Linked DNA regions of Homo sapiens: all the other regions are linked to region 3. The links come from fine-mapping of genetic effects on gene expression. A gene starts in region 3. Each other region holds a variant in brackets. All regions are shown on one strand. Distances are between the middles of the regions.

Region 1 (8,107 bases), 320 kb after region 3:
TCAGTGTGCTTAATGATAAAATAAATAATTTTACAGACTTAAAAAACAAAAAAGAAACAAGAAATCCCACCACTGTTTGTACATTAAGGTCTAACTACTTCATCTGGTACTCAAATGAAGAATCTGTGATCTGTCCAATGCTAAAGGAAAAACTGACTATTATGAATTTGATGAGAGACCATTTTAAAAGTTAATTTTAACTATGCTTGCTTTTTATCTTTTAGACATACTACAGAACTGAACTCTCACAAAAGATGCAACTGCACTGTAATTCAACAAACATGTCTTGAACACTTCCATGCAGAAGGAACTGCTAGCAGCTACACTATATATTGTACATTTTAAACTGGCAATTTAATTCATCTCCCTTTTCCCATGATGTTAGGTCTGAATATGGGAAACAGCAAGAGATCACAATAAGCTACTGTACTTTATGAGTCCTAATAACAAAGATCAGAATGCACCCTCACCCAGAGTGGGACTGCTAATAGAGGTCTTTAAGAGATGCTACCCCATTGGCAGGGGTAGTCAGAAAGAAGGAGGAAGCAGGGACTTATCTGTCTTAGGAGGATGTGAGTATTTCTCCCTAATATCTGCAGCCTGACATTATATTTCAGAAACTCAGATCCCATATCAAATGTACCTGTTTTTGTTAAGAGTTTCATTCAGAACAAGGTCTTCGTAGCGCTGCCGGGCAAAGTTGCCTCCGAAACCCAGAAAAGTTGTGACATAAACCCTGTACACGTGTTCAGTGTGTTGCACATCACAGCCCAGGTTGAACTCAGCCAGCAGGATCTTGGCAGCTTCTTCCTATAATACAATACCAAGAGAAAAAGGGAATTTTAGTTTTGGTTGCCTTCTAGAAAGCTATGACATTGCTAATACACGAGGCTTCATTTCTATGACTACTCTTTAAAACATCTTAAGCATTCTTTCATCCTCATAGCATTATTTTAAACAAAGACACAAAATGACAAGACTGCACTAAAAGGTACAAATTAGACACTAAATTAAGAACTAAATATGAAATTAGAAACCCAAAACACTATCTGTAGTTATATAGGAGGTAGAATTACTACAGATATCATTTTCTCACATGTATTTTTCTGTATTTTCCAATTCCCTCAATGGGAATGTGTTATTTTAATAGGAAAACATCCTTTAATAAAAATAAATTTAAGGAACTCTGTGGATCATCATAAGATCTATTCTGTGGCCTTTTCTTTTTCTTTTCTTTTTTTTTTTGAGACAGAGTCTCACTGTGTCACCAGGCTGGAGTGCAGTGGCATGCTCTCGGCTCACTGCAACCTCCGCCTCCCGGGTTCAAGCAATTCTGCTGCCTCAGCCTCCTGAGTAGTTGGGACTACAGGCACGTGCCACCATGCCCAGCTAATTTTTGTATTTTTAGTGGAGACGGGTTTCACCATGTTGGCCAGGATGTTCTCGATCTCTTGACCTCATGATCAGCCCTTCTCAGCCTCCCAAAGTGCTGGGATTACAGGTGTGAGCCACTGTGCCCGGTTCTGTGGCCTTTTCTAACATTATCCAAGAAGCCCTAAGGTTCCTTATGACAGGTTTGGGGATTGGGAAAGTTCAATTTTATTGTACCGCCAATGAAAAGGTGCTATATTTTTTTCTTGAACCTCAAGGGCAGAGGCTGAATTAATCATATTCCTCAGCTCATTCCACATTATCATGGCAAAGCCTCTCTTTTGCTTTATTTATTTATTCTCTTTTATCTTCATACTTAATCTCATTCCATTCTCTGCCATGGGCAACCATTCTAATGTGTTATGTATAATTTTTGTATATATGTATTATTATAAAATGAGGATTCTTGTTTTGAATGTATTTCTTTTTAATTTGTGAAAAATACCATTGTGCCCTGCAATTTCACTCCAAGGTACATACCAAGAGATCCAAAAACTGGGGTGGGCATGGTGGCTCATGCCTATAATCCCAGCACTTTGGGAGGCCAAGGAGGGTGGATCACTTGAGGCCAGGAGTTCGAGACCAGCCTGGCCAACATGGTGAAACTCCGTCTCTACTAAAAATACAAAAATTAGCCAGGCATGGTGGTGGGTGCCTGTAATCCCAGCTACTCAGGAGGCTGAGGCAGGAGAATCGCTTGAACCTGGGAGGCAGAGGTTGCAGTGAGCCGAGATCGTGCCATGGCACTCCAGCCTGAGTGACAAGAGTGAAACCCCATCTCAAAAAAAAAAAAAAACAAAAAAACTTATGTACATAGAAAAATGTGTATATGAATGTTCACAGCAGCACTGTGCATAATAGCCAAAAAGGGAAAACCACTGAAATGTTCATCAGCTGATAAATGGATAAACAAAATACAGCATGGTTGGTCATACAATGGAATGCTGTTTAGCCATTAAAAAGGAATGAAATACCCATACCACGAGATGGCTGAACCTTGAAAACATTTTGCTAAATAAAAGAAGCCAGACATAAAACACCACATATTGTATGATTTCATTTATACAAAATGTCCGGAATAGGCAAATCCACTGGAGAGAGAAAGTAGATGAATAGTTGTCAGGGGTAGGGAGAGGAGAGAATGAGGAGTGACTGCTAATGGGAAATGAGTGGGGAGTGAATATGGGGTTTCTTTTTGGGGCGATGAAATGTTCTGGAATTCAATAGTGGTGGCTGCACAACTTTGTGAATGTACATAACTTTGTGAGTTGTACAAAAAAATATATTAGGCATTCAGGATTATTTAAAATGTTTTAAATGCCATTGTCTCACAGTTTCTTTCATTTTTACCAAGCACTAAGATTCATCTTGAAGAGCCATTATATTGCTATGTGTAGTTACTATTTTTTTTTTTTTTGAGATGGGGTCTCACTCTGTCACCCAGGCTGGAATGCAGTGGTGCGATCTTGGCTCACTGCAACTTCTGCCTCCCAGGTTCAAGCGATTCTCCTGCCTCAGCCTCCTGAGTAGCAGGGTTAGAGGTGCCTGCCCACCCTGCCCAGCTAATTTTTGTATTTTTAGTAGAGACGGGGTTTCACCATGTTGGCCAGACTGGTCCTAAACTCCTGACCTCAGGTGATCCACCCGCCTTGGCTTCCCAAAGTGCTGGGATTACAGGCGTCAGCCACCGTGCCCGGCCTGCTATATGTAAATCTAATTTGTTGCTTGCAAGTATGCATTCCGTACCAGTGTTGCTTTCCATAACCATGTTCCTTTCTAAATCTGCACACACACAAAAGTCATTTCTTTAAGACTTGAAGCCCCAGTCCCGCTTGTCACCTATTTCTTAGTATCAGATCCATGCCTTCGTTTTACCTGTTAAATACATACTAACGAATATAGACTAAAAAGTATCACAACCTAGTTAGTCCCCCACATTTCCAACCCCAGCATGAAATTCTCTGCTGACTGCTAAACTCACATTTCCAACAGTCCTGTGGATATTCTGACATATATGTTCCTTGGGTATCTTAAACTCAATATATCCAAAATTGAAGTCATTAGTTTTACAACTTCTGAACTAGAAGACCAGATAGACGCTCTCATCCAGATCTCTCAGGACAATACTGTTTGCTTAATATCACCCCTGCCCTTACCCCTGTTGCTCTTCTCTCAGTTACTGGGTTCCTCAGTCTTCTGGTTATCTAGGATAGATCCTCAGCACTGCTGGCCATCCTCCCACCCTACTCACACTACCACAATCAATCGCTCAATTACATTGGGTTTTCACTCCAAACTATCCCCTGAAATCTGTCCCCTCCCTTTCATTTCCACTTACTTTGTCTAACTCAGCCCTTTATTACTTCTCACTCAAGGTTCC[G/A]TGACCTATATTCTTTCTCCTACTGACACAAAAATTTTTTCACTACAAAAAGATCAGATCACAGTCACACAACTGACATCATCACAAAATTCAGAGCTGAGAAGGACCTTCACAGTTTAATTATTTTATAAATGAAACTGAGGCCCATGTGACTGCCTTACTCAAAAACTTTTGGTGGTTTTCCACTATCTATGGAAATAAAAGCCAGTCCCCTTATGATAGCACTCAATACTGCTCATGATTTAGCTCCATCTTATCTTCCCAGTCTTAACTACTAGCACACCTGAAAATCCTATACTGCAAAAGGCTATTCGTCATTCCCTGGACATTCTGGCCTCTGTGCTGCTTTTTCTGTGCCTTTGTATATAGTGTTCCCTCCATGCAGGTGGCCTTCCCTCAGCCTCCACTCTGCAAAAAAAAAAAAGCCTACTCTCATCCAAGGCCCAGGTAAATACTTTACCTTCCATGAAGCAAGAATGGCTCCCATTCAACTTTGCAAGCTAAGTTGGCTGCCAGTCCCCATATTGCCACAGCTCTCTGTTTAAACCAGATGTTCTCAATGATGGGCAATTTCCACCCTGCCCCACACATCTGGTAATGTCTGGAGACACTTTTGATTGTCACAACTGGAAGGGGGAGGGTTGTTACTGACATCTGGTATAGGCAAGAGATATCATATGATGCATGGGATAACCCCTGATGACAAAGAATTATCTGACCCAAAATGTCAAGAGTGCCAACGATGAGAAGCCCTGGTTTAGATCAAGTTAAGCACTGCTACAGTCTCCCTGATATCACAAGCTGTCTCCACTGACAGATAAATTATAAGTTTTTAGGGACAGTGTAACTCACATGTCTATTCCTTGTACATAATATTGTCTATTCCTTGCACATAATGGGTGTACATAATAGGTGTACATAATGGCTGTACAAAAAGTGTCTGTGTAGGATGAAACTTCTCCCTCAAAATACATTCTTTACATTCTAGTGGGGTAAGGATTATTAGAAGGCCCAGAATGGAATCATCAGTAAGGGGAAAGGGAATAACATTTATTGAACAATAGATATGTATCAAATACTGTGCTCCAGAATGTAAATGCATTATCATGTTTATCCTCAGCAATGGCAGGAGATACCTAGTATAGTTATAATTGTTAAAATGTATTGAACACTTATGCTGGACAGTTTGCTAAATGCTTTACAAACATGGTATTATTTCATCCTCATAACTTTATGAGGTAGATACTATTATTATTCCTTTTTCACACAGGAGGAAGCTGAGGCTCAGAGAGGTAACCTACTCAAGATAACGCAAGCTAGCAAGTATCTGAACAAATATTTAGAGCCAGGTAGGTTGGTCTAAGTCCAAAGACAGTGTCCTTCCTTCTCAAATACTAGCATTCCTAGCAACTAAATTTCCCTAAAAGGTAAAGTACCTGCTTTGCAGGAAGGACAGAGGTTGAGGTAGGAACTTCATAAGCAATTTGGAGAGAGGCTCCTCCCATATCCAGTATCCCTACTGTCCTTCTCCGTCCTGCTGCCAATTCCTGGGTAGCCTCAGCATCTGATTCTGAAATAAATAAGAGAACAAAAAGGCCCTAGTAATTAAAAAATAAAATTAAGTCAAACCCCCAAAACAGCAATCCCTTGAAAATTTGAAAGCAGGCAGGTGCCATGGCTCACACCTGTAATCCCAAAACACTGGGAGGCCAAGGTGGGAGGATTATGTGAGCCGAGGAGTTCAAGACCAGCCTAGGCAACATAGTGAGACACTCTCATAAAAAAAAAAAATTTTTTTTAATTAGCTGGGCATGGTGGTGCACACCTGTAGTCCCAGCTACTCAGGAGGCTGAGGCCAGAGGATCATTTGTGCCCAAGAGTTTGAGGCTGCAGTGAGCTATTATCGCACCACTAAACTCTAGCCTCAGTGACAGAGAACCTGTCTCAAAATAAAAAAAAGAAAGCAAACAAGTATACTAACTGAATCAACTATATATTACACAAAGAATAATTCTTGTGAATTACTTAAACATGACATTTTGACTACGTATCCCTAGTAGGATATAGCCTAAGGACAAAAGAAACAAATATCTTAAGCTACATCGCAGTAGTCTTGTTAACAATATTGTTGGTTTTATTATTTAAAAATTATGAAGGGAGACTGAGGCAGGCAGATCACAAGGTCAGGAGTTCGAGACCAGCCTGACCAACATGGTGAAACCCTGTCTCTACTAAAACACAAAAATTAGCCGGGCATGGTGCTGCACACCTGTAATCCCAACTACTCAGGGGGCTGAGGCAGGAGAATCGCTTGAACCCGACAGGCGGAGGTTGTAGTGAGCCGAGATTGCACCACTGCACTCCAGCCTGGGTGACAGAGCAAGACTGTCTCAAAAAAAAAAAAAAAATTATGAAACATATTGTGGAATAAAACAAATAAATGTTTATGTCAATATCTTTAGGAACAAAGATTCAGCATAACAGAACAAAAAGGATATAGGTATAAAAATCAAATAAATTAATAGCACCCTATAATCTTACATATGAGTCAGAAATATGACTATGAACTCATTTATTTTTCTCTTTCTAAAAAATACATATTTCCTAGCTGTGTTCACTGAAAGGCCTAGAAGCAATGATATCCCAGGAGTAATGACCACCTGTGGTATCTGGACCAATAATCTCTAAATACCATCTTTTACTAAAAGAAACCAGGGCTCTTTTAAAAACAGGCCAATGCCAGGTCTAGGGTAGAAAGTATACAAGATGACCCTGGAATACATTGCTGTACCAGATAGCAAGGGGAATATAAAAGAGTATTGGGGTCATATTAAAAGGATACAGCAGCCAACCTAAAGATGCTCCTTAAAATACTAATAATGTGATGGGCTCTAATGCATCTAATATATTAAAATCCATGAGTTCATAATAATAATTAAAACTTTTTTTTCACTGGTTACCTTTGGAAGTTGCTAGACACCAACTCATTATTCAGAAATGTGATAAATAAAAAGAATCAAGGATTTATTCTGTCTTTCCCATAAGAACTATATGTCAGGGTAACCAAAGAGTTGATCAAGAAAAGTTCATTACATAAAAATTCTAGCTGTTAAATGCAGAAGGAATGACAGAATTAGAAATATCACCATTTTGCAATCTCTAATGAAAAACATGTCCAAGCAATGATCACAATTGGCTATTACCACAATTCCATGAAAGGCAGATAAGGAATTTTAATACTAAGTTAGATCAGGCTGATAATACTTGAACTCTCAATACCTGATCAGTCTGAGCATGACAAAAAGTGAGTCAACCAGACATTACAAAACTCCTGATGTGAGTAGTGGAAAACACACAGCGCCTTCTATGATTTAGTCTTGCAGATGGAATTGAATCTGAGTCTAATCAAACATCTATATCTGACCTCCAGTTTAAAGGACATATGAGGGGATAAGAAACATGTTAAAGAAAACATGTTAACCCCACAAAGATGCAGTCAATCAAATCTAGCATGTGGCAAATTCTTTCTACCAGGTGATCCAATTTTTTCTTGCTTTTAAAGGCAGGGGAGTGAGGTGGTAAGGTTAACAATTATAGATTAAAAGAGACTAAAGAGACATATTAATCAAATGCAATGCATGACCCTTGTTCAGATTCTGATTTGAACAAGCCCACTACGAATAAACATTCTTGAGAAAATCAGGAAAATCTATACCTGGATAGGGTATTAGATACGTATTGTATGATATTAGAAATTGTTAATTCTATTAAATTTAAAAATGGCATTATGGATATATTTTTTGTTCATTTTGAAACCCCTTATCTGTTGTAGATACATACTGACATACATGAAAATAAAAATTACATGTCTGGGGTTTGCTTTTTAAAACATTCAATGAGAAAAAAAAACCTTTAATACATGGGGGGATATGGGGGAGAAATGGCAAAACATTAGTAAATATTGAGCCTGGGTAATGGGTCCATGGAGGTTCATTTTATTATTCTACTTTTGTGAATGTTTGAAACTTTCCATATTAAAAAGTTAAAAAGAAATCAAAGAAAGCAAATTAGGACTGGAAAATGAAGCATCTTATGTTTGAAAAAAGAAAAACAACTCAAAATTTGCATTTACATGCTACTGATAGGTTATAACTTAAATCTTCAGCCCTTAGGTAAACTGTCATAAAAAGACAATATTACTCACCATCCTCGTGGTCGAATCTTCCCAAAACAAAGTTGATTCCAATCCATGCATAAACCCCTAAGTAAGAAACAGAAAAGCCCTCACTTAATTCT
Region 2 (8,107 bases), 47 kb after region 3:
CTCAAGGTCAGGCCAGGACCTGGAATCTAGATTTTATCTTGACTACCTTTTAACCAGTTAAGCCTAATAAGCTTAAAGATGTAAGTGGAATCCAAAGGAAGAGGATGTGGGCAGGGGGATACACTGGGAAAGAGAGACTAGAATGAGATGTACTAATTATCCATGGTTTTATCTTGTTCTCCTCTCTGTGATAATCTACTGCCAGTAAACACACTGACCAGTCAGCTTTCCTTCTATGCCTTTCACGTTTTTTTTTTAGCTCTGTCTTTTAATTTGGAAACACAAGGCTTGGAGGATGGAGAAGTTAGTTATACCTATGCAATTTGCCTTTTTCTGGGAAACTTAGCTTGTGCACAAATGATTTTAATTTCTCTTTTTGTATACGTGACAAGTCACATCAACAGGTATTTACTGGTGGGAAACAAAATCACTAAAAAATGAAAGTATTGTTTTATGCCAGATATGCAAGTTTATCAGACTTGCATCTAGGTTTCCTGTTTTTTAAGTCTAGTGCTTGGGATGGCGCTTCAACTTCCTAGACTGAAAATCACTTTTTCCATTAGATCAGTGTGTCTGTAAATGAAATGTTGATGATGGAATAGGTCAGGAGGGGATTTGGAAACCTTAAGAGTATGTGGGGCCAGGCATGGTAGCTCAAGCCTGTAATCCCAGCACTTTGGGAGGCCTAGGCGGGTGGATCACCTGAGGTAAGGAGTTCGAGACCAGCCTGGCCAACATGGTGAAACCCCATCTTTACTAAAAATACAAAATTAGCTGGGCATGATGGTGCATACCTGTAATTGCAGCTACTTGGGAGGCTGAGGCAGGAGAATTGCTTGAACCCGGGAGGTGGAGGTTGCAGAGAGCCAAGATTGCGCCACTGCAGTCCAGCCTGGGCAACAAGAGCGAAACTCCATCTCAAAAAAAAAAAAAAAAAAGTATGTGAGATAATGTTTGAGATCTGTTGTGTTTTACCACGTGCCTTTTTAGTTCACTGTTACTTACTTACCTTTAAGAAGTATCATTAGGATTAATAAGAGAAAAAATATATGTGTAATTTATAGATGTCTATATGTATTTAGAGCAGGCAGTATAGCTTAGGGGATAAGAATTCTGACAGGCCTAAGTTTAAATCCAAGTCCACCACTTAATAGCTGTGACCTTGGACTAGTTACTTAAGTCTCTCAGCCTCAGTTTTCTTATCTACAAAATGAGGATAATAATATAATACCTACCTCAGGGTGATTGTGAGGATTAGATGAGGTTGTACATGGAAAGCATGTGGTAGTAGGTAAGCGCTCAGTAAATGCTAGCTATTCTTATTAGTCTTAACCTGGGCGCCTGGGCTTCATTGATGTGCTTTGGGTATCTTGTTTCTGGGATAAGTCTGTGAAGTTTTGTGTGTCTGTTCTCAGAGAGATTCTATGTGAAATCAGAACCACTGATCTTTGTTCCAGCAGATGTCACCCTTCTTCCTTTTCCTGAAGCTATGTAATTGTTTTGGACTATTCCTACTGTTTTGAGTTAAAATATATATATATATATATATTTTTTTTTTTTCCTTGGGCTGGAGTCTCACACTGTCGCCCAGGCGGGAGTGCAGTGGCGCAATTTCTGCTCACTGCCACTTCCGCCTCGTTGGTTCAAGTGATATTCATGCCTTAGCCTCCCGAATAGCTGGGATTACAGGTGTGTGCCACCACACCCAACTAATTTTTGTATTTTTAGTAGAGACAGGGTTTCACCATTTTGGCCAAGCTGGTCTCGAACTCCTGACTTCAAGCAATCCGCCTGCCTCGACCTGCCAAAGTGCTGGGATTACAGGCATGAGCCACCACGCCTGGCCTCGAGTTATATTTAAACTGAGAAACAAGTCTGTCTCTTAGAAGAAGAATCAAAACAGGTGGCCAGTGCCCCTGACTATCCTAAAAAAAAAACAAAAACAGGAGAAAAGAAAGGTGGGGGGTGGAGGGGAGTAAAGAACAAAGCCAAAATAAGAGATTAGTGCAAGGAGGCTGGGCGCAGTGGCTCACGCCTGTAATCCCAGCACTTTGGGAGGCTGAGGCGGGTGGATCACGAGGTCAGGAGTTTGAGATCAACCTGGCCAAGATGGTGAAACCCCATCACTACCAGCATGGTGGCAGGCACCTGTAATCCCAGCTCCTCGGGAGGCTGAGGCAGGAGAAATTGCTCGAACCCGGAAAGCAGAGGTTGCAGCGAGCCGAGATCGCACCACTGCACTGCAGCCTGGGCGACAGAGCAAGTCTCTGTCTCCAAAAAAAAAAAAAAAAAAAAAAAAGAGAGAGAATAGGACAAGGAAAAGACAGAGAGGAGAGAAACAAGTTAGTGCATATTATGACAAGTGATAAAATATCACTAATAATTGCCTCACGTAAGACAGAATCCTCATCCCTTGCCTATAACCTGCCCCCTCAAACAACAGGCCAATAAAAAATAAATTGACCAGTGGTATTCATCAGTCAAAGCACATGTGTTATAAATTTGTGATGCCATGAATGTGAACTCTCAGGAAAGAAGTTCTGACATGGCTCGTATGGAAACCTGAATAAAATACTCTACGTGGTCAGGCTGCATAAAGCACATAGTTCCCCTGGCATTTAGAGACAGCCCAAAAGGAGTCCGTGAGGAACCCAGGACTGCAGTCAGACTGCTCATATCCGATTCTAAGAAGACCTGCACTCCTTTTTACCATTTTATTCCTAATGCATTTCCTGTTCAAATAAAAAATCCAACCAGAGGAAACAAGCAGTGTGGCTGGGATTAATTGTGCATGAGTCAAAGGCTCAGGCTGACCCTAAGGGTCACCACACTTCCTATTTTTCTGTTCTCAAAATCTGGTCTTGCTCGTGCAGGAGTTCCTCATATTGGCATTTCAGAAGTCTGGGAATGACCACTAGTTATTCTGGAGATACCAATCTAATGGAAAAAGTGATCCGTTCCTAAGGAATCACCTAGGACCCCAGGGGAATAGCTTGTATGACTCTTTCTGATGAAAAACAGAGACTTACGGTTCAGTAACAGGGCTATAAAACAGGGGCATTGAGGCAGAATATGGTGACCCACACCTTTAATCTCAGCAGTTTAGGAGGCCTAGGTGGGAGGATCACTTGAGCCCAGGAGTTTGAGGCCAGCTTGGGCAACAAATGAGACCCCATCTCCACAATAACAAAAAAAAAAATTAGCTGGGCACAGTGGCACACACCTGTAGTCCCAGCTACTCAGGAGGCTGAGGCAGGAGGATTGCTTGAGCCTGGGAGGTCAAGGCTACAATGAGCAGTGATTGAGCCACTGCCCTCCAGCCTGGGTAACAGACTGAGACCCTGTCTCAAAAAATAATAATAATCAAATGAATTTTAAAATAAAAAGGGTATTGAACTAAATAATCTCTAAAGTACTTTCCAGGTTCTAAATTGTGTATGTTTTTCAAGATTCACCTTTACTGTGTAGAAATAACCAATAAAATAGCAGTCCATCAGGTAATAAAGCTTATCAAAACAGTTATCCTGTTGAAAATAGATAGGAAAACAAGCCTTATTATATGGGTTCAGGGGGATCTGACAAAACAAGGAAAATAGCATAATTCTACAGCTTTAAGAAAGCCAGTTGATTTCAAAGCCAGCAGAGTGGGAGTTATGGCACGCTTTTATTCTTCCCCTTCACCAAGAGGCCCATTGTGTCTGAACAGCAGTCAGTCACCAGTGCATTCCCTCTGTGTTCTCGATGGATGGCCTTAGGGCCAGAGGGGGAAAAATTACTTGTGGTTTTTTGTTTGTTTTTTTTTTTGAGACGGAGTCTCGCTCTATCGCCCAGGCTGGAGTGCAGTGGCACAATCTCGGCTCACTGCAAGCTCCGCCTCCCAGGTTCACACCGTTCTCCTGCCTCAGCCTCCCTGGTAGCTGGGACTACAGGCGCCCGCCACCACACCCGGCTAACGTTTTGTAATTTTAGTAGAGACAGGGTTTCACCGTGTTAGCCAGGATGGTCTCAATCTCCTGACCTCGTGATCCCCCTGCCTCGGCGTCCCAAAGTGCTGGGATTACAGGCGTGAGCCACTGCGCCCAGCCTTGTGATTTTTTAGGACCCCAACTTCTGACCAAGGGATAGGGAATCATAAGTTAAAGGAATGTAGAAATACAGGACCAAGACCCTATTTTTGGGGAACACTGAAACCAAATAATATCAAATTTGTGAAAATATTTTGGGCAACTCTCTCTAAGTGTAAAATCTTATGTTAGGTGCTGTATAGTATATAAAAATACAAGTGTCAGAATTCATGATATAGACAATAATTTCTTTTCTAGGCTATAGACAGCCAAGATGAAT[G/A]TGAGCTTCTAAGGTTTTTTAGAGAAGCAAGCCTAGGTTTCAGATGGAGAGACAGTGTAACTGGAGTAAGGCTTTGGGGTTAATAATGATGCGGCTTCATAACAATAAAAACCTCCTTGTGTGGAATAGGGTCTCATATCATAGGTGAGATAATATTGGATAGTTGGAGAAGGGGAAAGTTGTGACTGGATAATCATGAATGTAAGTTTGCTTTGGGGTGAAAGCATAAGTCTTTTGGTAGCTCAGTAAACCTCTACAGAGAGTGTCCAGAGCAAATTTATTTTTTATATATTTTGGGTAATAAGAATAGGATTACTGAGGAAGAAGCCATTAGCAGTAGGCTCCTTGTGCTTCATGGTAAAAGTTTGGCCCGGGGAGGGAGATGGTAAAACTGGTGCATTTGTAATCTTGATTTGTCATGAATCAATTGGTAGACTTGAAGAAATAATGCGTGGGGACAAGATTTCAAAGGGTGAGATGGTGGGAATTGGACCAGGGTCGTAGCATAGAGCAATTAGTAGAAGGAAGAGGCCGGGCACAGTGGCTCATACCTGAAATCCCAGCACTGTGGGAGACTCAGGCGGGTGGATCACTTGAGTCCAGGAGTTCGAGACCAGCCTGGGCAACATAGTGAGACCCTGTCAAAATAAAAATTAGGTATGGTGGCGCATGCCTGTAGTCTCAGCTACTTAGGAGGCTGAGGTGGGACAATCAGTTGAGCCCGGGTGGTCAAGGCTGCAGTAAGCCATGATTGCACCACTGCACTCAGCCTTGGTGATAGGGTGAGACCCTGTCTCCACAAAAAAAAAAAAAAAAAAAAAAAGAAAAAGGGAAGAAATATTTTGAAAGAAGGAATTAGAAGAAAAAAGGAAATGAGCAGCAGAAGTCAGTTTGGAAAGCAGAATGTAATGAATTTATTTGGGAGTTGGAGTTGAAGAATAATCATCATTAGCAAATGAACATCAAGTGCTTGCCATGCAAAAGGCATCATACCAGACTCTTGAGATACCAAAGAGAAGGTGGTACCTACCATTAAGGAACTGTAACCTACTTGGGAATATAAGACAGACTTAGTTTTTTTTTTTCTTATTTATTTATTTTATTTTATTTTTTAGAGACAGGGCCTCTCTTTGTCACCCAGGCTGGAGTGCAGTGGTCCGATCATAGTTCACTGTAGCCTTGAACTGTTGGGCTCAAGCAGTCTTCCACCTCAGCCTCACGAGTAGCTGAGACTACAGGCAATAGCCACCTTGCCTGAGTAGACTTAAATTTTTTGTTGTTGTTGAGATGGAGTTTTGCTCTCGTCACACAGGCTGGAGTGCAATGGTGCAGCCTCAGCTCACTGCAACCTCTGCCTCCCAGGTTCAAGCCATTTTTCTGCCTCAGCCTCTCGAGTAGCTGGGGTTATAGGCGTGCACCCCCCCACCTGGCTAATTTTGTATTTTTAGTAGACACAGGGTTTCACCATGTTGGCCAGGCTAGTCTTGAACTCCTGACCTGAGGTGATCCTGCGCACCTCGGCCTCCCGAAGTGCTGGGATTACAGGCGTGAGCCACCGCACCTGGCCTAATTTTTTTTTAAATCAAGAGCATGTAAAAATCAAGAGCATAAAAGATAACCCAGTTTTCCAATGTGCTTGACTATAAAATGACTCATAGGATTTTGCCAGGTGCTTTGCTACCCAGATCTTATTTTACCTAGGCCAGGTGCATTCCTTGAGCACCTCTGACTTGGGTACTGAGTGAGAAAGAAATTTTAACTATAAAAGTATAGGTAAGATTAACTTTAATCTTAACTGTAAGATTAAAATAGATAATCTACAAGTGAATAGCTTATAATCAGATAATCAAGAGTTTGTTATAAAACAGTTGATAAAATTAGAGTAATTTTTTCAAAATTAAATCATAAATCATATAGAACTGAATTTTAATTTCATTTTTCCAGAAACATATACTGTGCTCTTATCCTTTCTTTACCTCAACTTCTTCTACAATAAGACAGATGCTAACTGTTCAGCTTACGTTTTGTGAGGATAACCTGAAAATTGGTTATTTTCAAAAACAAAAGTGGTGATTATTGGTACCTTCTTTTAAGATCTCATTATAATATATTTTCAGGATAGGGACAGTTCAAGAAGGCCTCTGGAGAACATGATTGAACATTCATTGTCCATACCCTTCATCTCCAACAAAGAACCCTTTACTAAAGATTTGTTTTTTTTTTGTTTTTTTTTTTTGAGACACGGTCTCACTCTGTTGCCCGGGCCGGAGTGCAGTGGTGCCATCATAGCTCACTGCAGGCTCAAATTCCTGGGCTGAAGCGATCCTCCTGCCTCAGGTTCCCAAGTAGCTGGGACTATAGCGCTCACCACCACACCGGCTAATTTTTTTTTAAATTTTAAATAGAGACGCGGTCTCACTATGTTGCCCAGGCTGATCTTGAACTCTTCTGCTCCAGCAATCCTTCTACCTCAGCCTCCCAAAGTGCTGGAATTACAGGTGTGAGCCACTGCACCTGGCCTCCCTGTATACTCTTAAAAGTTATTGAGACCCCAAAGAGCTTTTTTGTTTTTTTGGGTGGTTTTTTTGTTTTGTTTTTGTTTTTGAGACAGTGTCTTTCTCTGTCGCCCAGGCTGGAGTGCAAGTAGCACAGCCATGGCTCACTGCAGCCTTGACTTCCCAGGTTCAAGTGACTCTCCCGCCTCAGCCTTCCAAGTATCTGTGACCACAGGTGGGCACCACCACACCTGGCTAATTATTGTATTTTTCCCAAAGAGCTTTTGTTTATGTGGGCTGTGTCTGTTGATATTTATCATATTAGCTATTACAACTGGGAATTTTTAAAACTTGTTTATCAGTCTATTAAAAACCCATTACATATTTACGTAAATAACATATTTTTATGAAAAATAAGTATAGCTTTCCAAACAAAAAAAAATTAATGAGGAATGACATTGCTTTACATGTTCGTAAATATTTTTAATGTTCAACTTACTAAAAGAAAACCAGATTCTATTTGCATCTGTATTCAATCTGTTGCAATGTGTTGTTTTCATGGAATTATGTGAAGAAAATCCAGCCTTACACAAATATGCAATGGGAGACAGGAAAAGGTATTTTAATAGTCTTTTCAAATAATTGCAAATATTCATCGTTGACACTGCACCAAAATTCAACGATTGGTAATTTCTTACGAGTTAATTGCAGTGTGGGATCTGAAACTACGTCGGTGAACTTTCATAATATTACACTAAAATTCATTAATCTATCTTGCTTTTGGAGTGTGAATCTTTTAGCCATGAATGATTTTATACCAGCATGCATTTGTCATTTAGGAAATATTGATTCAATTAGCTACTCAGTTATTCCAAATGTTGACCATTTCAACATACAATGTGAAAAAATCATATTTGTTACTATCTCATCAGAAGAATCTTTAAGTATGGGAAAGCTGCCAAGCCCATGGTAGTAGATACAAGTTTTCCAAAATTCTCATTTTCTCTTGGAAGTTGGAATTTTATCATTGGCAACAAATACTGTCATTTGTTCTCCTTGATGTTTCAGACTCACTTTCATTTTGGAGGAAACATCTGCCAGATATCTAAGTCTGAATAAACATAGTTGTCTGTTATTCATTCTTGCACATAAAATGGTGTTATGTGAAAATAAACAGACGGTTCAGGCATATAACTCAGTTACTCGTGCTTCTCCTCAGCAGTAAAAGTGCTTTATGTGTAATTCCTATATTGTCACACAGAATATTA
Region 3 (8,107 bases):
TATAAAACCACCTTTGCAAAATTTTAACTGAGGAACTTATGAAGTGAAAGAAAGCAGACCTAACTGACCCCATCTTGCTTCTAACCTTTAAGTTGTCCTCGTTCATTCCTGGGCATAGGCTGAACTAACTTTGGGAAAGAATTCAGTTCATGACTCTGAAACAAAATTGATAATAGCCCTTTGCCAAAAAGACCCCCTTCTTGCCTAGGGACCAGTCTGCCTTTGCAGGACTAACAAATTAGCTACAAGATTAGAAATTACAGTTTAAGGCCGGGAGTGGTGGCTCACACCTGTAATCCCAGAACTTTGGGAGACTGAGGTGGATGGATCACTTGAGGCCAGGAGTTTGAGACCAGCCTGGCCAACAATGTGAAACCTCATCTCTACTAAAAATACAAAAATTAGCTGGACGTGGTGGTGCATGCTTGTAATTTCAGCTACTAGGGAGGCTGAGGCACGAGAATCGCTTCAACTCGGGAGGTGGAGGTTGCAGTGAGCTGAGATTGCACCCCTGCACTCCAGCCTGGGCGGTAGACTAAGACTCCGTCTCAAAAAAAAAAAAAAAAAAAAAAATTACAGTTTAGGGGTCATGCAGCCTCTGACTCCAAGAGCCTGAACCTCCCAAATTGCTCCTGGAATAACATCACTATTTCAAAACCTAAGATCAGTATTTGAGATATTTTGCAGACCCTGCAGTTGATGGATCTGCTGACACCATCCAGACCGGTAATCTGGCTCAACCAGTTCTGCATTGCACCCAGGAGCAGAAAACAGCAAGAAAACCTCATTTTGACCCCCTATGTTTCCATCTCCAACCTGACCAATCAGCACTCCCCACTTCTCAAGACCCCACCAGCCAAATTATCTTTAAAAACTCCACAAGGTCAGGAGATGGAGACAATCCTGGCTAACACGGTGATAGTCCGTTTCTACTACAAAAATACAAAAAAAAAATTAGCCAGGCGTGGTGGCGGGCGCCTGCAGTACCAGCTACTCGGGAGGCTGAGGCAGGAGAATGGCGGGAACCCAGAAGGCGGAGCTTGCAATGAGCCGAGATCACGCCGCTGCACTCAAGCCTGGGAGACGGAGCGAGACTCCGTCTCAAAAAAACAAACAAACAAAAAACTCCGATCCCCAGGCTGGGCGCAGTGGTTCATGCCTGTAATCCCAGTACTTTGGGAGGCCGAGGAGGGTGGATCACCTGAGGTCAGGAGTTCAAGCCCAGCCTGACCAACGTGGCGAAAAAAATAAATAAAACGAAATGCTTGATTTTTCATCTGAATTTCATATGGCATACTTGACTCCAAACAACTTTAGAAAGCTACATCCACAGAAAACAAAATTGTAGGAAACTGAATAATAAGTTATTTTTATTTTGGCTAATAACATTATCCAAAAATAAAGACAATAGATTTGCAATGTTAATTACTTTCTTGAGGAAAGAAAAGTCACTTGTTTTAAAATATTTATTTATTTATTTATTTATTTATTTATTTGAGACGGAGTCTCGCTGTGTCACCACGCTGGAGTGCAGTGGCGCGATCTCAGCTCACTGCAACCTCTACCTCCCGGGTTCAAGCGATTCTCCTGCCTCAGCCTCCCGAGTAGCTGGGACTACAGGCACCCACCACCATGACCAGCTAATTTTTTATTTTTAGTAGAGACAGGGTTTCACCATGTTGACCAGGATGGTCTCGTTCTCTTGACCTCGTGATCCGCCGAAAAGTCACAGTTTTACAGGCAAATGAAGCATTGCTAAGAATTTTAAAGACTCTCCGAACGTTGATATTTTACTACAAAATGTTCTCTTTACAGTGTTAACATGCTTCAAAAAGCAAAGGAAAAAAAAACAGTATGGTGGCTTCTCAAAAAATTAAACACAGAATTACCACATGATCCAGCAATTCTTCTGGATATATACCCAAAAGAATTGAAAGTAGGGACTCAGATATTTGTACACCCATGTTCATTGCAGCATTATTCACCATAGCCTAAAGGTACAAACAACCCAAATGTCCACAGAAAGATGGGATAAACCAAAGATGTTATATACGTACAATTGAGTATTATTCAGCCTTCAAAAGGAAGGATATTCTAACGCATGCTACAACATGGGTGAGCCTTGAAGACATTATGCTAGGTGAAAGAAGCCACTCACAAAAGGACAATATTGTATGATCCCACTTATATGAGGTATCCAGAGTAATCATAGAGACAGAAAGTAGAATGATGGTTACCAGGGGCTGGAGAATGAGGAGTTAGTGTTTAATGGGTACAGTTTCAGTTTGGGAAGATGAAAAAGTTCTGGAGCTGGATGGTGGTGATGGTTGCAGAACAATGTCAATGTACTTAATGCCACTGAACTGTACACTTAAAAAGGATTAAAATGGTAAATTTCATGTGATATATATTTAACCACAAGTTTTTAAAAAGCAAAGGGAAGGAGAAACATATACAGCATGGGATGAGATTTGTGAAATATTTATTTTTGTTGTGCATGCACAGTCATAGACTCGCCGCCTTCTTCAGAATCCTCTAGGTAGATTCCAGAAACGTGAGGCGCAGCAATTCCAGCAACATAGCCAAGCTGTGTAACTTCGTGGTCTTTAAACAAACAACGGGAATACTGCGGGGATTCAGAAACTGAGTCGGAGGAGGAGTTCTGACAGCCCTGCCCAGTTCTTGCTTCTGTCATTTCTTGCTCTCAAATTCTCAAAGATGTCCTGAGAGACTTTCCTCAGAAAAAAATGGGACAGATAGAGGCGAACCCCAGCGAGTATTGTGTGGCATAATAAGGGAAACTGCCTCGGGGTAGCAAAGAGGACAGCATCACACGCAGACAGGAATCGACTTGGACTTCTCTGAATGGAATTTTGACTTTTTTCTAGGTTGGAGGGTGGTGTCGGGAGTGGGGGAACAGCAAGAGTGGAGGAACTTGTCCGCAGCCGGGGCTGCACGTAGGACTGCGTGAGGCCGAGGCCCGACGAGCCGTGTCGGCGCGCTGCGGCGGGGGCGGGCCCCCGTGCCTCAGTTTCCCCGGTGGCCGTTCTGGGAGCGACGCCCCTCTGACGTCGCGAGGCGAGCAGGGCCGGGCCGGCCGCCAGGGGGCGCGAGCGCGGGGCGGGCGCCGGAGAGGTGGGCGCGCGGGCAGCGGAGCTTGGCGCCCCCGGGGCCGCGCGGACCGCGCCGGCAGAGGCGGAAGCCTGAGCGGGAGGCGGGGCGGCGCGCTGACTCACACGGGATCGACCCGCCCGCCGCTTCCAGGGGCGGAGGTGACAGCGGGCTGGGGACTGGCGGCTGCAACTGCCTGCCGCGCCGAGGGACCGCCGGGCGGCGGAAAGCAGGTCAGAGGCCGGGCCAGGCCGGAGCCGGGCGGGGGCCGGGCGGGGAGCGGGGGTCGCGGTCCGGGGCCGCGGGCGGAGGGGACCCGCACCCCGAGAGACGCGCCGCGCCGCGCCGCGCGGCTAGGCCTGTATCGGCCCTTTCCCAGCGGCGGCGCTGTGCTGCGCTCTGTGGGCCAGGAGCCCGCGAGGGACAGTGGGGCGCAGCGGGCCCCCTCGCACTCCTGTAGTCCCCGGGAGTTGGAGGGGTGGTCAGAGCAATGCGAACGTGGGCTTTTCAAGCGGTGTCAAGCCCAGGGCTCTTTCTCTGCACCGCCCTGCCACTCCGGCAATGAGGCGGAATTTTGAGAGCTGGAAAAAGAATTCTGCGTTAGTCCACCCCGCTGATTTTACAGATGTTCGGAGCCTTACGGCATAGGAGGCCGTGATTCTGTGTCAGGGAGACAGGGACAGATGGCTTCCGAAGCAAGGGTTAGACCTGTTCAGCTGGAGATGCAGCTTTGGTCATGGTGGAGTTTTGCAGAAACCCGCGGACACCCGCGTTCCTGCTGCAGGCACAGATGTCCACCGGGCATCTGTGTCTCAAAGGGTGGTGATGCTGTCACTTTAGTAAAGGAATATTGAGGTTACCAAACAGGCCGGGGCCTGATGCAGATGAGGAGTATAGACTTAAATTTTAAGTGCAAAAACAACTTTAAATGCAGTCTCATTATTACTGCCTGTCTCATTTGTACTGTAATGAAGGGTGAATATTTTTGGCACTCACTTATTCTGGAATATGGGTAACTTGCCTTTAGGTCTGTTTTATAGTAATTCTTTTACACAAACATGAAGATCTTGTATTAAAACACTTTCATAACTAATGATGCTGTAGTATGTGGCAGGCGAGTGGTAACGCTAATATTTAGGGTTTGAGCATAGTCTAGCTCTGCTTGTTTACATAGCTGAGTTAAACGGATGAGCAGGACTGATTAATCTGTAGTAGTTTTTGCAAGACTGAAGTACCTGACAGCATTCGGGGATCATTTCTCAGTTGGTGTTCCGTTTATTACTTTCACAGCATGAATACCGACACGGTGATCAGCAAGTTAGTTTATCCTCTACCCATTTTTCTCTAAAATATTGAATTAAAGGATCTCTAAGGTCCTCTTCTGTCTCGAGTTCTCCGATTTTACATGTTAACTTGAAACACGTCACTCATTGTGATAATAAAAATGTTTTAAGAAGAAAAGATTTTTAGAATTCTGCATAATGGGGCATAGCGAATCTTCAAATTCATTATTCTCAGCTCTCTCAGTCACTTTATCAGGGTTGGGCTAAAATAAGTGAAAAGTGACTTTTCAAATTGCAGATACTTACGTGTTAAATTCACTTAAATTCAGAGGCTGCAATGGAGTGATTTCTGGAGGGTGGAGAGTAGCTCAAGTCTGGCTTGGGAACGGGGTTCGTGCAGTGCACTGATAACTTTTGCAATAAGCCAAGAACAGTCTGACTCAGAGAATGTGATAAATTGACTTTTATACAGTGTTCATATTGTGTATTTTTTGGCTGAGATAATAATAATCTTCATAAACGATCTGTTTAAATATGCACCAGTTATTTATTTGTCTTGCAGCCCCAAGGCAGGGCATTTCCCTCAACGTTCCATCAATCTCTTCCTCTTTTCTGGCTCCTGACTTCAGGTGATCCGCCTGCCTCAGCCTCCCAAAATGCTGGGATTACAGGCGTGAGCCACCGAGCCTGGCTTTTGGCTTATTTTCTAGGTTTAGTATTCTGTTGTTTCTAGAGTCAGCTAATGGATTACCTACAACATGGTATTATTACGAGATTATCTCCTGTGAAATTCTCGAATGTGCTTGATCATCTGCCAAAGCATCCTTAGAATTCATTCAGAATACTTCTGGAAAGTTTTGCAACACCAATTCAATTAATATGAAATAGTTTCTTATTATACACACTCTGGAAAACATCTGAATAAGCTAATTTTCAAGATTGGTTAACTTAGTCTTGTTGGTCAGGAGTTAATTATGAGTTATTAGTTTCTTGCCTGGAAAGGCAGAAAGTTCTTAAGTAGCAGCAGTAAAATGAGCTCTTTAATGAAAGAGCCGTTAAACCAAGATGTTAACTTTTAGTTGTGTTCTTTATCCTCCCTGCTATGAAAGGCAGCTGTGGGAGGTGAAATAGAGTAGCTAAAATGTATTATTTCATTTTTAGATTTCTAGATCTTTTCTTCTGACTGAAGGACGTGACCACCAAGAATTGAACCAGCACTTGAGGGCAGGCACATAGGGCATTGTGTGAGGAGTCTGAAGGCATGGCTTTTGGTCCTTACTTGTTTATTCACTGAACACATTCTCACTGAGCACCTGTGTGTGCTGAGAGGGTGGGCACCTGTGTGTGCCGGGAGGAGGAACACCTGTATGTGCTTGTGGGGGGCACCTGTGTGTGCCGGGGTCGTGGTAGCACTTGTGTATGCTGTGGGTGCTGGGAGGGGGAACCAGTTTGAACAAAACAGACTAAGCCCTCGTGGAACAGACACATTCTAATTGGGTGGAAACAGACAAATATGTGAATGAATAGGTCAAAGGATCATAATGCTGTGGAGAACTTTAGAGTCAGGAAAGGGTAAGAGTGTGTGTGTGTGTATGTATATGTGTGGTAGGGGATTTACTTTTTATATAGAGGGGTCAAATAAAGCCTCTACTGAGATAACTTTTTTTTTTTTGGAGACAGAGTCTTGCTCTGTCACCCAGGCTGGAGTGCAGTGGCGTGATCACAGCTCACTGTAGCCTCAACCTCCTGGGCTCAAGTGATCCTCCCATCTCAGCCTCCCGAGTAAGCTGGGACTGCAGGCTTATATCACCACGCTGGGCCAATGTTTGTATTTTTAGTAGACGCGGGGTTTCACTATGTCGCTCAGGCTGGTCTGGAACTCCTGGCCTCAAGCGATCCACCCACCTTGGCCTCCCAAAGTGCTGGGATTACAGGCATGGGCCACCACACCTGGCCTAACTCATGGTGGGAGACTGGAAGGAAATGAGGAAGTGAGCAGGAGGCAGTGGGATGAGCATGTTCCAAACCCTGGTGCAGGAGCATGCTTGGCATGTTAGGGGTGGCAAGGTCATGGTGGCCAGTCAGTGTGGATGTGGGTTGGGGGGAGGTGGCAGCAGATGAGAGGGGGTGGGAGTGGGGAGGACACATCAGTGTAGGTCATTGTAAGGATTTTGGCCTTTACACTGAGTGAGGGGGAAGCCGTTGGAGAGCTTTGAACAGTGAAGTTGATGATGACTTATGTTTTAAAAGGATAACTGGCTGCTGGGTTGAGAATAGACAGGAAGAGGACAAGGGCTGAGTCAGGGAGACCTTTTCAAGCTAGAGCTGTGTGACTCACACCATAATTCTTCCCTGAGTCTTCGTTTCCTCATCTGTAAAATAACTGGGCCCTCTCTAGCTCAAGAATTTTAAGTTTTCAAGTAGTGCAGGGTATTATTTCTACAGGGAGGCAAGAGGATTGCGTGGGAAGAGGTTCTGAAAGTAAATCGCTTCAGATGACCTGAAAACTTGACACCAACCTGCCTGTAGCTGAATCATCCCAAATCAAGAGGTAATCAGGTCTTTTTCAGTCAGATTGTCAGGTCATGAGAACAAAAACACTGTTTCGTAAATATTCTCTGCTCATCCCTTTTGTACTTTGCTGATCCCTGAATTTTCCCTTCCTGATTGAAAAAGGATGAAAAGCTGTTACTCATCAACAGAACTGGCAACCAGAGTAGCTTTTGTTGTTTGGAAAATTGGGAACTTTGGGGAAGGAAACAATTCTGTGTTTATCGTAGGTCATAAGAGTTTTTCTTTTATAACACGCAAGGAATCTAAAAGATTGGTTTTGTTGTAGAATTCCCTTGTCCCATTCATCTCATGTCTCACAGGTGTTCATTCTTAATGCATTGCATGTGCTTCCTTTTGTTTATGTAGGAGCTTGCAAAGTGGGAATGTTTGTTTTATGTGTATGTATCTTGATTTATAATGCTGTAATTCATTTTCCTTTATGTAGTTTGGTTTTTTTTTTTTTTTTTTTTGGAGACTTTTGAGACAAGAGTCTCACTCTGTTGCCCAGGCTGGAGTACAGTGGCGAGATCTCGGCTCACTGCAGCCTCCGCCTCCCGGGTTCAAGCCATTTCCTGCCTCAGCCTCTTGAGTAGCTGGAATTACAGTCATGCGCCACCACGCCCAGCTAATTTTTTTGTATTTTAGTAGAGACGGGGTTTCACCATGTTGGCCAGGCTGGTCTCGAACTCCTGACCTCAGGTGATCCGCCTGCCTTGGCCTCCCAAAGTACTGGGATTACAGGTATGAACCACCATGCCAGGTCTCTGAGTAGTGTTTTTAAGATCCATCCATATTGTTATGTGTCTAATTCTCTGCTTTGGAATGCTGCATTTATACCCCATGCTGTTTGCATCCATTGGTTTTGCTTTATCTGCTCTCTGTGTAGTGAGTGGTTACTCAAGTTGTTCCTACCCCCTAACACCATAAATATTGCTGCAGTGAACATCTTCCTACATGTCTCCTTACAAAGCTGTATAATATTTCTGTGGAATTGCTGGATTATAGGCTTGCAGAGACTGAATTTGATTAAATAGTGCCAGATGCCTCTCCACAGTGGCTGCCCCAGTCTCTGTGCCTCTGGAAGTATTAATATTTGAGGACTCCTGTATCCTCATGTCCCACCAGCACTCGCCTCTTTCCAGCTATCCATGGTTTTCAAT
Region 4 (8,107 bases), 78 kb after region 3:
GTAGGTTACAGTTCCTTAATGGTAGGTACCACCTTCTCTTTGGTATCTCAAGAGTCTGGTATGATGCCTTTTGCATGGCAAGCACTTGATGTTCATTTGCTAATGATGATGATTCTTCAACTCCAACTCCCAAATAAATTCATTACATTCTGCTTTCCAAACTGACTTCTGCTGCTCATTTCCTTTTTTCTTCTAATTCCTTCTTTCAAAATATTTCTTCCCTTTTTCTTTTCTTTTTTTTTTTTTTTTTTTTTTTTTTGTGGAGACAGGGTCTCACCCTATCACCAAGGCTGAGTGCAGTGGTGCAATCATGGCTTACTGCAGCCTTGACCACCCGGGCTCAACTGATTGTCCCACCTCAGCCTCCTAAGTAGCTGAGACTACAGGCATGCGCCACCATACCTAATTTTTATTTTGACAGGGTCTCACTATGTTGCCCAGGCTGGTCTCGAACTCCTGGACTCAAGTGATCCACCCGCCTGAGTCTCCCACAGTGCTGGGATTTCAGGTATGAGCCACTGTGCCCGGCCTCTTCCTTCTACTAATTGCTCTATGCTACGACCCTGGTCCAATTCCCACCATCTCACCCTTTGAAATCTTGTCCCCACGCATTATTTCCTCACGTCTACCAAATGATTCCTGACAAATCAAGATTACAAATGTACCAGTTTTACCATCTCCCTCCCCGGGCCAAACTTTTACCATGAAGCACAAGGAGCCTACTGCTAATGGCTTCTTCCTCAGTAATCCTATTCTTATTACCCAAAATATATAAAAAATAAATTTGCTCTGGACACTCTCTGTAGAGGTTTACTGAGCTACCAAAAGACTTATGCTTTCACCCCAAAGCAAACTTACATTCATGATTATCCAGTCACAACTTTCCCCTTCTCCAACTATCCAATATTATCTCACCTATGATATGAGACCCTATTCCACACAAGGAGGTTTTTATTGTTATGAAGCCGCATCATTATTAACCCCAAAGCCTTACTCCAGTTACACTGTCTCTCCATCTGAAACCTAGGCTTGCTTCTCTAAAAAACCTTAGAAGCTCACATTCATCTTGGCTGTCTATAGCCTAGAAAAGAAATTATTGTCTACATCATGAATTCTGACACTGGTATTTTTATATACTATACAGCACCTAAGATTTTAGACTTAGAGAGAGGTGCCCAACATTTTCACAAATTTGATATTATTTGGTTTCAGTGTTCCCCAAAAATAGGGTCTTGGTCCTGTATTTCTGCATTCCTTTAACTTATGATTCCCTATCCCTTGGTCAGAAGTTGGGGTCCTAAAAAATCACAAGGCTGGGCGCAGTGGCTCACGCCTGTAATCCCAACACTTTGGGACGCCGAGGCAGGGGGATCATGAGGTCAGGAGATTGAGACCATCCTGGCTAACACGGTGAAACCCTGTCTCTACTAAAATTACAAAACTTTAGCCGGGCATGGTGGCGGGCGCCTGTAGTCCCAGCTGCTGCGGAGGCTGAGGCAGGAGAATGGTGTGAACCTGGGAGGCGGAGCTTGCAGTGAGCCAAGATCGCGCCACTGCACTCCAGCCTGAGTGATAGAGCGAGACTCCGTCTCAAAAAAAAACAAAAAAACAAAAACAACAACAAGTGATTTTTCCCCCTCTGGCCCTAAGGCCATCCATCGAGAACACAGAGGGAATGCACTGGTGACTGACTGCTGTTCAGACACAATGGGCCTCTTGGTGAAGGGGAAGAATAAAAGCGTGCCATAACTCCCACTCTGCTGGCTTTGAAATCAACTGGCTTTCTTAAAGCTGTAGAATTATGCTATTTTCCTTTTTTGCCAGATCCCCCTGAACCCATATAATAAAGCTTGTTTTCCTGTCTATTTTCAACAGGGTAACTGTTTTGATAAGCTTTATTACCTGATGGATTGCTATTTTATTGGTTATTTCTACACAGTAAAGGTGAATCTTCAAAAACATACACAACTTAGAACCTGGAAAGTACTTTAGAGATTATTTAGTTCAATACCCCTTTTATTTTAAAATTCATTTGATTATTATTATTTTTTGAGACAGGGTCTCAGTCTGTTACCCAGGCTGGAGGGCAGTGGCTCAATCACTGCTCATTGTAGCCTTGACCTCCCAGGCTCAAGCAATCCTCCTGCCTCAGCCTCCTGAGTAGCTGGGACTACAGGTGTGTGCCACTGTGCCCAGCTAATTTTTTTTTTGTTATTGTGGAGATGGGGTCTCATTTGTTGCCCAAGCTGGCCTCAAACTCCTGGGCTCAAGTGATCCTCCCACCTAGGCCTCCTAAACTGCTGAGATTAAAGGTGTGGGTCACCATATTCTGCCTCAATGCCCCTGTTTTATAGCCCTGTTACTGAACCGTAAGTCTCTGTTTTTCATCAGAAAGAGTCATACAAGCTATTCCCCTGGGATCCTAGGTGATTCCTTAGGAACGGATCACTTTTTCCATTAGATTGGTATCTCCAGAATAACTAGTGGTCATTCCCAGACTTCTGAAATGCCAATATGAGGAACTCCTGCACGAGCAAGACCAGATTTTGAGAACAGAAAAATAGGAAGTGTGGTGACCCTTAGGGTCAGCCTGAGCCTTTGACTCATGCACAATTAATCCCAGCCACACTGCTTGTTTCCTCTGGTTGGATTTTTTATTTGAACAGGAAATGCATTAGGAATAAAATGGTAAAAAGGAGTGCAGGTCTTCTTAGAATCGGATATGAGCAGTCTGACTGCAGTCCTGGGTTCCTCACGGACTCCTTTTGGGCTGTCTCTAAATGCCAGGGGAACTATGTGCTTTATGCAGCCTGACCACGTAGAGTATTTTATTCAGGTTTCCATACGAGCCATGTCAGAACTTCTTTCCTGAGAGCTCACATTCATGGCATCACAAATTTACAACACATGTGCTTTGACTGATGAATACCACTGGTCAATTTGTTTTTTATTGGCCTTTTGTTTGAGGGGGCAGGTGATCTAGAAACATGCTGGGGGAATCCGAGGAGTCATTGTGGCCAACTGCCTCATTTTATTGATGGGTAGATTGAGTTCCAGAGAGAATTAGTAGTTACCCAAGAGTAAACATGTAATTATTAACAAAGCATATAAGGCAGTTTTCCTCAGGGTTCTGGATATTATTTCACAAATAAGGATTAAAGTTCAAGGAATCATTCCTAGATATCTAAGAAATGACCAGACAGCTAAAAGAGTAATCTTATTAAGGCCTGTCTCTTAGCATGTGTTTCCCCTGCTCAAAAACCTCATGACTCTTTGCTTTCCATTGAATAAAATAAATGTCATTGACATCCTCTGGGGTCCACCCCAACCTATCTCTTCAGCCTCCTCTCTTATTTTCCACGTATTATATCCTTCAGATGATTCCCCATTTCTTAGTGCTCCATATGTGAAGTCTGCAGAGATCCTGCTTCTCCTAGAAGTCACTGTTCACATCCAACCGCTTCCCTGAAGCCTCCACTTGCCATGCCAGGGACTTTGCTTTGGTGCTGTTGCTGTTTGTCTTTGCTCCATAGCACTTATCACATTAGATCTTTCTTTAAGCGTGTTGCTTCTGCATTGTAAGAGGCAGGGACTAATTTGTTTGTCTTTTTCTGTTCCACAATGCCTCCTCTATGATAGGTAACCATCTAATATTTGTTGATTTAAATAGCCATTTACCTGCCTTTTTGATTTCTGGCCTCATTTTCGACTTCTTAAATATGTTGTATGAATTAACTAGAAAAGAGGTTTAAGAAATGAATGTTTTTGATGCTTCCCTGGCATGACAAGTATCTGGGAAAATGTGAAAGCATACCTAACTCCATTCTGGGAAGAATGTTTACGCTATAAAATCACCTACTCACCAGATCAAAGTAAAAGGAAGTACTTTTTCTTCCTTCAGTCGTATGACTAACTGTCTGCAGGTGGGAGCTTCAGCAGCTTGCGATTGGAGTGTACACTAACTGGTGACTTCAATTCCAGAAAAGCAAAGCAGTCAGAAGAGTCCTGACTCTAAGTTAAGGGATGAAGTCCTGAAAGGTTTCAGATGTTCAAGGATTAGAAAGGTGGACTTGGAGGATGGGGAATGGAGGTGCAGCTTGAGAAGGAAAGCACTTGTTTATACCCCTGGTGGCTTACTAAAGGATTAAAGAGGCGGGGGAGACTGATATATGACCTGACCTGGACTTCTAAAGGGGTGCTGTTTCTCTTTCACACGACTTTTCCTGCAAAACCTTTGGAGTAGCAGAATGCCTCTATCTTCAGCAAGTAAAGCAGCCAAGCCAGTTTGACCAGCTTGAGGGAAACACCAAACAAAGCTGGCAACTCCAATCACATGCATACTAGTTACTCATTATCTTCTGGCCTCTGGAGAAAGATAGAGTAGCTCGCTGATTGGATCCTGAGGTTGAAATAACTCCACATCTCACTGCGCTCCGACTAGAGCAACGAGAAGAGTGTCTGGAATG[G/C]TTGGGAGACATTTTAAGCAGGACAAATCCAGCCTTAGGCTAGACTGCACCTGTCCACAGCCCAGCCCAGGCCCATGGAAAAGAATAGTAAAACCTTTGTCTTTAAGCACATAGAATATGTGTGAAACCCAGAAGGCTAGAAAAGAAAGGGAAGTGGAGGAGAAAAGGCACTGGGACTCCAGCTGGGAGTATGAAGACTACGGGAGTGTACGGAAAAGGAACCTTACAGTGCTGGATGGACTCTACAGAGAAAATGACTTGGATCCCAGGTACTGGGCCAAGGGACAGCATCAGCCCTACAGAAAAAGGGATTGTGGATACTGGGATTTTGAACAGAGTGAACCAAGCTATATGGACTGTGGGGAAGCACATGAAAGTGGAAAGGGCTGTGTGTACCACGGAGGTCATGATGGTTATAGGAGTCCAGAAAATGTAGATTATGAGAGTCTCAGCCCTGGGACGAAGGATAATTCACCTACGAGAAGCCCAGATGTGACCTCGAAAGCTGGTGGATACGGGGAGGCAAATGGCTACTCAGACTGTAAGAATCTGAATTATAATCCTGAGGACTCTAAAAAAGCTGAACAGTTGACTGACTGTAGGGGTTTGGATGATTCTTCAGCGAATTTAGGTCAACCTCAGTTGTGGTATATAGACCATGAGAATGTTAACCATAATCTTGAGGATTGTTGGGCAACTAATTTTTATTGTAGAGAACACAGCAATTTATATCATGTTCCTGGGAGTTATCCTGATGGTCAGCCTGTGAGCTTTTCAGATTCGAATGGTGTCAATGAAGATAAGGAATTTATCAAATACCATGAAGGGGACAGGAATGTTCATCAAAATGACAACATGTATCCCAAAGCAAAGACTCATATTATGGATCAGGGTGATTTTGATACAGAAAATAAAGGCTATGATGCTTTATTTGCAAACTGTGCATATAAATCTCGTAATTCCAGAGGGACAGATTCTCTCCATCAAATGGAGAATTTGGAGTATAATGGCACTGACATACCAAGAACAAAGGCACATGGGGGCAGCAGGATCCTTCTGGATGGTCTGCAGACTCAGTGTACCAGGGGAGAACAAGGAGGACATCATTTGGGGATTCCTCAGAGCTCGTCATTAGAGAAGAACATCTGGCATTTAGAGGAAGAGAAAAAATTAAATGGCCCAGAGACTTGGAGAAGGAATAGTTGCCTCCGCCGCACAGCACCCAGCACCCTGAGGCGCTCAGAGTTCGTGCAAAACAGCAAGAAAACCCAAGGTATGAACTCAGCCAGCCTTCTTAAGATAAAGCATAAAGATAGATTTAAAGGGTAGTTATACCAGGTACTAGGAGCACTTGTGTTCTTAAGGAGCCCGGGCCCTGAACTTCTTATCAAGTGCACCTTGAGTGAGAACAACCTTAGAGATTTAATTACTTTGGAAGGCATTGTACAGAGCAAGAGTATATATACAGTGCTAAAAATATGCAACATTCGGATAGCGCTCTCATGGGAACTTTTATTTACGCTTCCTGGTTTTTTCAGATGTCTCTAATCTCAAGTATCTTTCCTTTCTTACTTTCATGTTTTTGTTCATCTTGTCGAGGCAGCAAGTTTATTATCAGGGCATCAAGCTAAAATTCATTTTCCTGGCATGTTTTTTTTTTTTTCTCTCAGTCTCTACACTTCTTTGGACATTAATGGAAAAGAAGACTTGACTTTATTTTTATTTATTTATTTTTTTGAAACAAGATCTCATTCTGTCCCCCTGGCTGGAGAACAGTGGCACGGTCATGGCTCACTGCAGCCTCAAACTCCTGGGCTCAAGAGATCCTCCCACTTTAGCCTCCTGAGTAGCTGGGACTATGGGTACATGCCACCATGCCCGGCTACTTTTTTATTTTTTTGTAGGGGCAGGGTTTCACCATGTTGCCCAGGCTGATCTTGAACTCCTGGGCTTGAGCGAACCACCCACCTCTGCTTCCCAAAGTACTGGGATTACAAGTGTAAGCCACCATTGCCAGGCCTTCATTTTAATTTTTTTTTTTTACCGCTCCTTTCAGAGCAGGGCTACCCCATAGGCAGTGTGCCCAGAGTAGCCCTGATTTGTTTTATAGATTGTTCACTCCTTGACATTCAGGAATCTTAAGTGAATGATGAGTACTGACACTCTTGTGGATTCCAGAAGATTATTTCTAGCTTTCAAATCACTTCATCTCACTGAGCCTTAACTACGTTGTCTGTGAAATGAGAATATTAGGAGTCTTTTATCATGTAGAGGTTCTTTCTTTCTTGCCATTATATCTTTTCTTCAGTTCTCATAAGTGAGCTTTATTTCTACTGTGTTATTTTTATAATTACTGAACTCTCTGTTAAACCTTTCGTGTGTGTGTATGCTGTATGTTGTCTTCATGCCAAACGGCCTTTCTGGTTCTGGCCAATTTTGGGGTCCAGGCTGTGACCAGAGGATAAAGGTTAGTCAGAGAATGTGAATGATCTGAAAAATCCATCTCATGCCCTCCCCTTAAGTAGAAAGTTTCTCGTCTAGGTCTCCTTCAGAATGGGCTGGCTGGTTAGATTTGTACTAGGGGCCACCACAGACTGAAAAGATAAGCCTGCTATGGTCCTGGGATGGCCGGTGGTTTACCTGGTGGTCTTCCAACATGGGCTTGACTTAACTTGAATTTCTGGGGCACCATTTTGGACCTAACAGGCTCTTAACCTGCACCTATAAAGACAAAAATGAAACCAAACCCAGCTTTAGTTGGGAGGCTGAGGTTTTTAGCAGCTAGTCATTTTTTCCTAGGTGCATTTTCTCTCTGAAATGATAGGGACTGGATAACTTCTAAATTCCTTCCAGCTAAAAAAGAAAAAAGTCTGATTCTGTGATTCTTTATATTGGTTTTTGTATTGTTCCTCTTCCCTTCCCCCCGCATCTGTTCCTTTGGTGAACTTTGTTTCCTATGTTTAGTTCCTTATTGTATTAAGCCTCCCAACTGTAATCAAAGTGTGTTTATTCTGTTTGACTTAACAGGAGTGAAACCCTTCTCTCTGCAGTGTTGTAATGTGCCCTCTGATCTCCCTGAAACCAGCTCGGTTCCACCCAATATCATTTCCATTTCTACAACTCTCTTTATCTTTGAGGACTTAACTTTTGAAAGTATATTCATATTTAGTTCACCCCTTTTTGTACCCCTAATATCCTTCTTGACCTATAACAAATTCTGTCTTTACTAGAAATCTTTCAGCATTCTAACGTTCTTTGTTAGCTCTCTCACGCCATTGCCCTTCCTGAATATTACAAGGGAACACTGTGTAATTACACAAAGGAACAAGCATCAGAGTTGGTCTGCCCTGAGTTCAAATCTCAGCTCCACCATTTACTAAATGGCCTTAACTTGACAAAAATTACTTAACCTCTTGGAGCTTCGGATTCTCAATTTGTAAAGTGAAGATAATACCTCTCTCATAATGAGATAGAAAAATAAAACAGTCACATATCCGGAACATAGTAGGTGCTCATAAATGGCCATTTCTTTGTGTTTTATCTGCCCACCTCCCTTCCCCTTTATAAGTTGCGCCACCCACCTGTCACTCCATGGTTTCGTCTCTGAGTTCCAGATTGATAGTCCCTGCTCCCTGTTGGAC

Alleles and levels. Positions count from the first base shown, and alleles are read on the strand shown. Sizes are in standard deviations (SD) of each study's normalised expression. Not every link is listed here.
With allele A in place of G in region 1, the expression in whole blood of the gene that starts at base 3,235 in region 3 is lower (moderate effect, 0.61 SD a copy in GTEx).
In carriers of allele G in region 4, the expression in thyroid of the gene that starts at base 3,235 in region 3 tends to be lower than with C alone (moderate effect, 0.72 SD a copy in GTEx).

The links. PIP is the estimated chance that this variant, and not a neighbour inherited with it, causes the effect.
Region 1: its variant is fine-mapped to the expression of DNMBP in whole blood (TOPMed, PIP above 0.99).
Region 2: its variant is fine-mapped to the expression of DNMBP in whole blood (TOPMed, PIP above 0.99).
Region 4: its variant is fine-mapped to the expression of DNMBP in thyroid (GTEx, PIP above 0.99). The same link has a PIP of 0.9 or more in lung.

Annotation. Positions count from the first base shown.
Region 1 is chr10:99,688,659-99,696,765 of GRCh38, reverse strand. ENTPD7 (ectonucleoside triphosphate diphosphohydrolase 7) reads right to left here. Exons shown (of 13, transcript NM_020354.5): 7 at 8,016-8,072; 8 at 5,248-5,381; 9 at 644-810. It also overlaps a transcript of COX15 not described here. Among named protein-coding and RNA genes, the nearest start is that of ENTPD7, 33 kb to the right of the region's middle. The variant G/A (reference allele first, on the strand shown) is at 3,812.
Region 2 is chr10:99,958,328-99,966,434 of GRCh38, reverse strand. All of the region lies in intron 3 of DNMBP (dynamin binding protein), which reads left to right. DNMBP-AS1 (DNMBP antisense RNA 1) reads right to left here. Exons shown (of 5, transcript NR_024130.3): 5 at 7,437-8,107. Among named protein-coding and RNA genes, the nearest start is that of DNMBP-AS1, 35 kb to the right of the region's middle. The variant G/A (reference allele first, on the strand shown) is at 4,345.
Region 3 is chr10:100,005,075-100,013,181 of GRCh38, reverse strand. It overlaps DNMBP (dynamin binding protein), which reads left to right and starts at 3,235. Exons shown (of 17, transcript NM_015221.4): 1 at 3,235-3,344. RefSeq lists a silencer at 2,943-3,462 and enhancers at 6,119-6,178, 6,729-6,808.
Region 4 is chr10:99,927,240-99,935,346 of GRCh38, reverse strand. All of the region lies in intron 4 of DNMBP (dynamin binding protein), which reads left to right. DNMBP-AS1 (DNMBP antisense RNA 1) reads right to left here. Exons shown (of 5, transcript NR_024130.3): 1 at 8,048-8,107; 2 at 7,107-7,187. Among named protein-coding and RNA genes, the nearest start is that of DNMBP-AS1, 4.1 kb to the right of the region's middle. The variant G/C (reference allele first, on the strand shown) is at 4,467.